2 linked regions of the Homo sapiens genome follow. The protein of the gene in region 2 purifies or fractionates together with the protein of the main gene of each other region. This does not show direct contact. Each region holds a gene or a part of one and is shown on either strand. Other genes may lie near its edges.

Region 1 (3,809 bases), on a different chromosome or scaffold from region 2:
TACCAAATGCTAGTGAGGACATGGAAAAACTGAATCACTTACATATTCCTGTTGGGAATGTAAAGAGTTTGGCAGTTTCTAAAGAAGTTATACATTCATCTCCCATATAACCCTGCAATTGCATTCCTGGGCATCTGTCCTAGAGAAATGAAAATTTGTGTTCACAGGAAATCCTATATGTGAATGTTTGTAGAAACTCTATTCTTAATAATCAAAAACTGAAAACCCAAATGTTCTTCAGTGGGTGAATGGTTAAACAAATTGGTACATCTATACCTGTAATACTATTCAGCAATAAAAAGGATGAGGTATTGATACTTGCAAAAGCCTGGAAAATTCTGCTGAGGAAAAAAGCCAATCCTAAAAAGTTAAATACTGTATAATTCCACTTATACAACATTCTTGAAATAACAGAATTGCAGAAATGAAGAACATATGGTTGCCAAGGGTTAAGGAATGGATGAGGGAAGGAGTAGGAAGAAAGTAGGTGTTGCTATAAGAAGGCAACACAAGACCTTTGTAATAGAAATATTCTGTATCTTGATTGTATCAATATTAGTATCCTGGATGTGAGTGACATTGTACTCCAGTTTTGTAAGATGTTACCATTGTGGAAAACTGGGTAAAGGACACAGGGGACCTTTGTGTTAATTGTTGGAAGTGTATTTCAATCCACACTAACCTCAAAATAAAAAGTTTAATAATAAAGAAAAAAAATGTTATTGTATAACTTTCTGGTACCTGCCAAAGAACAACATGCAGCGTGGTAGATACTGTTAGCAAGCATTCCAAGCTAGAGTTCTTCTGGATTCCCACTCAGAAAACAGTCTGAAAAGATCTAAGAACTGGTAAAACAACTTCTAAAGAAGTATTAAATGAAATCACTGTTTTGTGAGAACTTGAAAAAAAATACAAGGGTAATAAAATATGCATTAAGGAACTTTGTTTACCAATAGGCTCCTAGCTGAAAGTTCAAAAGGTCATCTACTAGACCTGAGCCTTTTGAATTGTCGAATAAGGACAGTACACTCACTGCACCTCAGGAGGACACCCAGCAAACTGGACTTTCTACAGTTCACATCAAAAAATAACACAGAGCTGATTTCCTTCTTATAATGCCAAAATCTGTTCTTTTTTTTTTTTTTTTTAATTCCATCCTTGTATTTCTTTGGGTTAAAATTCTTATTTATTGACTTATCAACCCGAGGTCAGAGAGACAGAAAGTATGAAATCTTTTTTTTTTTTTTTTGAGACGGAGTTTTCGCTCTTGTTGCCCAGGCTGGAGTGCAATGGCACAATCTCAGCTTACTGCAATCTCCGCCTCCCAGGTTCAAGCGATTCTCCTGCCTAAGCCTCCCAAGCAGTTGGGATTACAGGCATGCACCACCACGCCCAGCTAATTTTCTATTTTTAGTAGAGACGGGGGTTTCTCCACATTGGTGAGGCTGGTCTTAAACTCCCGACCTCAGGTGATCCTCCTGCCTCGGCCTCCCAAAGTGCTGGGATTACAGGCATGAGCCACTGTGCCCAGTCGAAAGTATGAAATCTTTAAATGTTCTCTAAGTTTCATACTGGTACCCTGTGCTGCCTCTACACACATCTTGTCCTTATTATATATCTCATGGTGATAAATGATGGTTGTTACTAAAAAATCTGAAAAGACATATATGAGGAATGCCCCAAGTGCTGTTGGTATGAATCTTCTTTATTCATTAATGTATTAATATACATTACTTAAACAGTGTATGTTTCCTCTTTTCAGTGAAATAAAGTCTGTCATACTATAAAAGTAATATATTTATTGAGAATTTGAAAAACAAAAGATAGTTCTACCATTCACAGACCACTATGTTAACACTATGATTTATTTTCTTTAGAATCACTCAATTGTGTATTTTATTTATTTATTTACTTATTTTTGAGATTTATTTATTTATTTATTTTTGAGACAGAGTCTCACTCTGAGACCCAGGCTGGAGTACAGTGGTGCAATTTCAGCTTACTACATCTTCCGCCTCCTGGGTTCAAGTGATTTTGTGCCTCAGCCTCCTGAGTAGCTGGGATTACAGGCATGCACTACCACACCTGGCTAATTTTTGTTTAGTATAGATGGGGTTTCACCATGTTGGCCAGGTTGGTCTTGAACTCCCGACCTCAGGTAATCCACCCACCTCAGCCTCCCAAAGTGCTGGGATTACAGGCGTGAGCCACTGCACCCAGACCAATTTGGTATTTTTTTTTTCCAGACCTAACAGTTGAACTCAAGAGCTAACAATCAGAAGTTTTCTTAAGTCTGCTTAAATCTCTAAAGCTATCCTCGGTAGTCACCAGTATCTATCAAGATTACGGTATAGGCCAGGCACAGTGGCTCACACCTGTAATCCCAGCACATTGGGAGGCCAAGGCGGGTGGATCATTTGAGGTCAGGAGTTTGAGACCAGCCTGGCCAACATGGTGAAACCCCGTCTCTACTAAAAATACAAAAATTAGCCGGGCATGGTGGCACATGCCTATAATCGCAGCTACTCGGGAGGCTGAGGCAGAACTGCTTGAACCTGGGAGGCAGAGGCTGCAGTGAGCTGAGATTGTGCCACTGCATTCCAGCCTGGGTGACAGAGCGAGACTTTGTCTCAAAAAAAAAAAAAAAAAAAAAAAAAGATTATGGTATACATAATTGTAGGCAACTGGTTCAGAGAAAATACTGGAGATGACTGAGTAAATCAATGATTTTCAGAGTTACTTGCTAATTTGAGGTCTTCTAAATTTTTCACTATTCACTTCGCAGTTATTTAATAGTAAGCTTAGACTAACAAATTCCACCAGCCACATAAACCACCTGATGGTGAGAACAGGTAGCAGTAATGTGGTTGTTCTTTTATTTGATCCTAGTTTCCATATATTACAGCAAATTTATGTTACTGTGGCAAAGACCCATCAGGGGTTACCTTCTGATTATATCCCTGAAACCTGGAGAGGGAGAGAAGAAATAAGCAAATTCAAGAATCACTGGCTTAGATCTTGGGAATGATTACAATGATGCTGTTATTCTTGTGGCAAACAAAATATATCCTAGAACCAGGGAACTTAAGAATAAAGGGAGATCTTATCAGTCATCAAGCTCTAACCTTTTCTGATGCATGAGTTTCCTTTCTGTTCTGGAAAAGTAGTTGTCCAACCTTTGCTTGAATGTCTCCAATAAGGCCTGATTCTTACCTGAAAAATGAGGTAATATGATTACTAAGTCCCCTTCAAGTTCTAATAGTCTTTTCAATGAAATGTAAACTTCTATTGGCTAATCATTTATTTTTTTAAAGTTTCTTCCTTTTTAGTAAGTGAAATTAGTTTCCTCTATTCTGAGGTTACAATTCTTTGGCATATGTGTTACTATTAAAAAAAATACTTAATGTCATGCTATCCTTATTTATCCAGGTATAAGTATACATTACACTTCCCTTATGATTTTCCTACTAATTCTGGGAGGGATGGTTCAGAAATCTTAAGAAACTTACATGAGGTCACTTATACAGATAGTAACTGGACAGCTGGAGCCTAACTAAGGTCTTTGGACTTCAAAATCCAGTATTTTCCCCATTGCACCTATAAAATGACCTATTTAAGACCTATAAAATGTCTTATAAGCTATTATGACACATATCATCTATCTAAAAATATTTTCCAAATAGCCAAATATATGTTATAAGCTAAGTGACTGACCAGGTGCAGTGGCTCAATCCCAGCATTTTGGGAGGCTGAGGTGGGTGGATAGCTTGAGCCCAAAAGTTCTACATCAGCCTGGGCAACATGGCAAA
Region 2 (4,456 bases):
CCACCTCGTCCGGGTCCGTGAGCTTGAACTCGCCGTGACCGCCCTCCCACGCGATGCAGCCGGCGTTCGCGCGGTCAGCCAGCAGCTCCAGCAGAAACTGCCACAGCTGGATCTGTCCGCTGCCTGTGGGGAGGGGGGCGGTCAGCCACAGGCGGGAGCGGGGAGGCGGGAACTGGGGAAGAGTGCTGGCGGGAAACTGACCCACCCCGGCAGGAACCGGCACTGGGGGAGGAAAAGTGCAAGTCAAACTGCAGCTGCGTTCGGCGGGAGAGGCCGGCCCCGGAGGGGCTGATCAGCAGAGTGGTGTGTAGCCTTACCGCGCTTTTGCACAATGGAAATGCGGCTTCCACTGAAGAGCACGTAGCTTTCCAGATGCACGGTTTTGTGGAACTTGGGGGTTGGGGGGAAGGGGAAGCATTGCCTCCCCCCACGTGAGCGCAGCGGCGCACCAAGGCACTTGGCTTTCCAAGGCGAGCAAGGACAGATATCCGCCGCCACTCTCCATCTCAGCCGGGCGCCCTTATTTAGGGAAAAGACGCACAACCGTACAGGGCGGCCTTGGGCAGAATGATCGGACTGCCCCATCCCAGCTGGACCACATCCAGAGGTGGGAAGGGACAGGCGTGCAGCAGGACGACCCCAACCACTGCTGGACAAGGCCCAGCTAGTCCCGAGTCCCCAAAGACGTAGTTGGACAGGCTACTCCTGAGGTGGAGTGGTGGCTGGCTCCCTTGGGACACCACATCCGACAGGAGTAGGAACGAACAGTGGCCCCCTATACGTGACAGGAGGGGCAAGCTCTCATGGGCTCACTATCCTAGCCACCTTCGGGTGCGCAGGCCTCTGCGCTGGCCCTGAGAATTTGGCCTCTTATTTTCGGAACAGGCGGGATTCCCTGCCTACGAAGGTGCCATAGTTCTCGGGGCCTGATGAACAACTCTGAGGAGGGGAACGGACCGAGCAGCTGTTGTGCTTGGCTACCAACCTCCTCCTGTCTTTGTGTGATCTCCCTCCGAATTCGGTTGCTGGAGGCAGCAAGGAGGTTTTTCCAGGATATGCGAGTGGTTAGAGAGTGGGGTCCCAGAATTCCTGCTCCCCTGTCTTGGAGCCTCAAGCAGACAGGCAGAGAAAAATCCCGATACAATTACCCCCACTCCCTTTTAGAATAAAACGGATTTTCCTCAAAGTGGTCTGCTTACTGCCTCAAATATAGTCTTTTGAACCCCTCTTACTTTTTCAGCCACTGGCTTAGAATCCAGACGCTACCCTTCCCCATAATTTCAATCCCAATCCCTTCAAGCCAGCCCAGCAAAGAGCTTCCTGGTTTCTGGTCCCCAGAGTTAAGTTTTAGGGTCAGAAGCAAGGGAAGGTTTGGGTACAAAGGTGCACCTGGCACCAAAGGCGGAGCAACCTCAGCGGCTTGGATGACCGTTCCTGTTGGGCATAGTTTCCTTCTGGATAAAACAGTCGCCAACCTCGTTTTTGTGGTTTCTGTCTCTTGGTGAGATCTAGGGTAACGACTGAGATGGGGACTGTGGGGAGACGCTGCTTGAAGAGCCAGCCGTCAAAAGGGTAATTTAGCGACTACCCGTGGAGCGCTGGTGGTGAACCTGGGAATCAATTGCAATCGTCTGGCAGAGTTGGCCAGCAGAGATCAGCCGGCGTGAGTCAGCGCCGGAGGGTGAAGCAGGTGGCAGTAGCCAGGGTCTAGTGATTGGGAAGCCCGCTGTGTTTGGGGAGTAATTCCCCCGGTTCCATTGCCGGCTGGTGCTGCGGCCTTGAGCTCCTACTACCAGCAGGGAAAGGACGCTAAGTGTCCCAGCCCCTGCCCCAAAGCCTGGAAAACCATACACAGCAGCAAAAGGGCCTGGGGCTGGGATCCTCTCCATCTGCCTTGGCCTGCAACTCTTTTCCTGGTGCTCAGGAGATGCAGGAGCCAAAAACCAAGTGACTGTCTTCCCAAGGCCTCCGCACAACCAGGCCAGGACTCCGGGCTTCAGTGTGAACCCTGGGTCCACACTGCTCCCACCTACTGTCCGCCTGTGCCCTGACCCCAACCAACCTCGCCTCCGCCGCCCAGCGCGCCGGCCATCTCACCTTTCTGAACCGCGGGGCTCAGCGGCCCCCAGCTCGGGTTCTTCCCGTCCTTGAAGAGACCGTCTCCGACGGGATCTGCAAGCAGCAGAAGAAAAGAATCAGGAGAACCCCGGGCGGAAGTTGTGGGCTTGACAAAAGGGCCCCGGGCCAAGGCTTAAGGGGGGTGCTGTGGTCCCCAGGCGCGAGGCTGGGGGCCCGGGCCACCCGGCTCCTCCTCCCGGAGCCTGGTCCAGGCGCGCTGCGCGGAGCCCCTCCATAGAGCCCAAGTCAGGAAACGCGTCCAGGAAAAAGGAAATCCGCTTTCCGAAGGGGCCGGCTGGAGCCTTATAAAGCCGAGCGGGGAACTGCGCCAGCCGAGCTGGAGCGCGAAGAGAAGAGGAGGGTGCCTGGAGGGCCGGCCTGAAGCTCGTAGCAGGAAGGTGAGGAGCCGTGAGAGCGCAGGGGAGACGCCCGCGGACCACAGCCTTCTGGTACGGCTCGGCCACAGAGTACTCCACCACGCCAGAGACCCGTGCTTCCCCTCTCAGGCTCCTTCGGGTCCCTGAGTCCCGGCTCTTGGCCCCCAGGCTCCCAATCTGCTCATTTCAACTCCTCTAGACCCTGCACTGAAACCCAGAGCTCTCTATCTGCCTTTAGGTCTCCCCAGTGCCCTACATTACAATCGGCCCTCCATGCAACCCGAATCTCCGGACACTTCTCCTTCCCCTGGACCCCAGCACTCTCTTCCCATGCCTGAGCCTAGACTTCCCGCCCCAGGTTCCGGTGCCACCAGCCTCCGGCTGGTCCCTGGTACCTGGCAGGTACATGTTGATCAGCAGGGGCTGGGAGGCGCCGCTCTGTCTCATCGCCGCCGGGGACTGGGCGGTGGGAGATGGGGGGGACGGGGAAGGGGGGCGAGGCAGGCTTTGCGCTCGGTGGCACCGATCCCCGCCCGAAGCGACCGCGGGTGACAAGGAGGAGAAGACGGCGCCGGGTCCGGCAGGGCCTGGCGGGAGGGGGCAGCCCGGGCGTGGCGGGGGTTGCGGGGGGGTCCTGGAGAAACGCTTCCAGCTAAGGGGCCGCTTGGAACCCTCCGGCCCCCGCGCGGCCCGGGGCCGCAATTTCCGTTTTAATTAAAGCGCTGCCGCCTCGGCCCCCAGGACCCCGCCCCCGCCCCTCTTATCGTCCCATCGCAATAAAGTCTCCAACGCGCCGCGCCACAGCCAAGCGCACCCGGCAGCCCCCCGCGCCCCGCAGCCGGGGAGACGCGCGGGGGATGGGCCCGGGCCATGTGCCCTGATGGGAGCCTAGAGCGCGTGTCTTTTCCGCCTCCCTGACTCTCTGCAAACAGTGATGGGGCTGGTGTACCCGGCCCCACCTCGGACCCCAGCAGCCACAGCCCCCTCCCTAGAGCCCTTCTTCCAGTCGGCTCCCGCTCCACTCGCCGCTCACTCTCCTCCCCCTCCCTCCCTCTATCCCCACCCGGGTTCCCGTCTCCAGGCTGCGTTATCTGCATCTTCACTTTTAAATTTCCGCTTCCCTCCCTCTCGCCTGTCGCTGCGCGCCCGGCCCTGCAGCCGTTGCTCCCTTTATCTCTGCCCGCATCCCCGCTCCCTCCTCCTCTTCTCCCACTCTCTGCTCTTCCCTAGAGACCCGAACCCCTTCCCCGTCTCCTTCTTGCTTTGGCCCGTTTCCTGCCTTTCTGGGGCCCCCAAGCCTCAGGCCTGGTGCTGGGCCATCTCTCCTGGCAACTTATGATGGGTGGCCCCCTCTTCTGTCCTCCCCGCCCCCTTCTAGGTCTCTCTTTACCTCCTAGGCTTTTCTCTCCGACTCTCATCTCCCCTCCAGCCTTCTCTCTCCCTCTCATCCTTCTCCCTCCCCTCCTTTTCTCATTCATTCAGTCCCCATAAATTAGTAGTGGCTTGGACTGCTGAAGGCCTCTAAAGATGTTGAGAATCTGTCCTGGCTTTCCCTGATGGGTTCCTGAGCCCCCTGCTACTTCCCTGTACAACTATTCTGCTCCCATCCTTCCCCATCCCCTGTCCTCCCAGTCTGCCACCCACCCTCACCACTACTCCCATTCTGGCTATCCCTGAACGAGGCTGGAGAGGTGGAGGGGTTAAGACAGGGTTGTGCACTGTACAAGGCTGGAATCCACTCCAAGAAAAGGATTCCTATTTCTAACTCATGCAAAGATGTTGATGTGGTTCCCAAGTGGCCTGGAGTCTCTCTGGGTACCTATGGGGCTTCGTGGCTCTGGAGAGGCAGGCTAAGGAGGATGCTGGCTGAAGATGAGGCTCCAGCCCAGAAGCCCACCTTCTGCAGCCTTGCAGTATGGAACGGGTACTGTCAAAACTGGCATTCTCAAAGTCCTCTCTCA

The links.
Region 1: the proteins of FEV (region 2) and TIMM9 purify together in Homo sapiens (affinity purification with mass spectrometry; one large-scale study listed by BioGRID and IntAct). This does not show direct contact.

Annotation. Positions count from the first base shown.
Region 1 is NC_000014.9:58,420,883-58,424,691, forward strand, and holds part of TIMM9 (mitochondrial import inner membrane translocase subunit Tim9), read right to left. Parts: intron 3,214-3,809; 5' UTR 3,126-3,213; intron 1-3,125. UniProt on the Homo sapiens protein: Mitochondrial intermembrane chaperone that participates in the import and insertion of multi-pass transmembrane proteins into the mitochondrial inner membrane.
Region 2 is NC_000002.12:218,982,134-218,986,589, forward strand, and holds the start of FEV (protein FEV), read right to left. Parts: upstream 3,052-4,456; 5' UTR 2,943-3,051; coding exon 2,891-2,942; exon of another isoform or gene 2,752-2,890; intron 2,173-2,751; coding exon 2,098-2,172; intron 124-2,097; coding exon 1-123. UniProt on the Homo sapiens protein: Functions as a transcriptional regulator. According to PubMed:12761502, it functions as a transcriptional repressor. Functions in the differentiation and the maintenance of the central serotonergic neurons. May play a role in cell growth.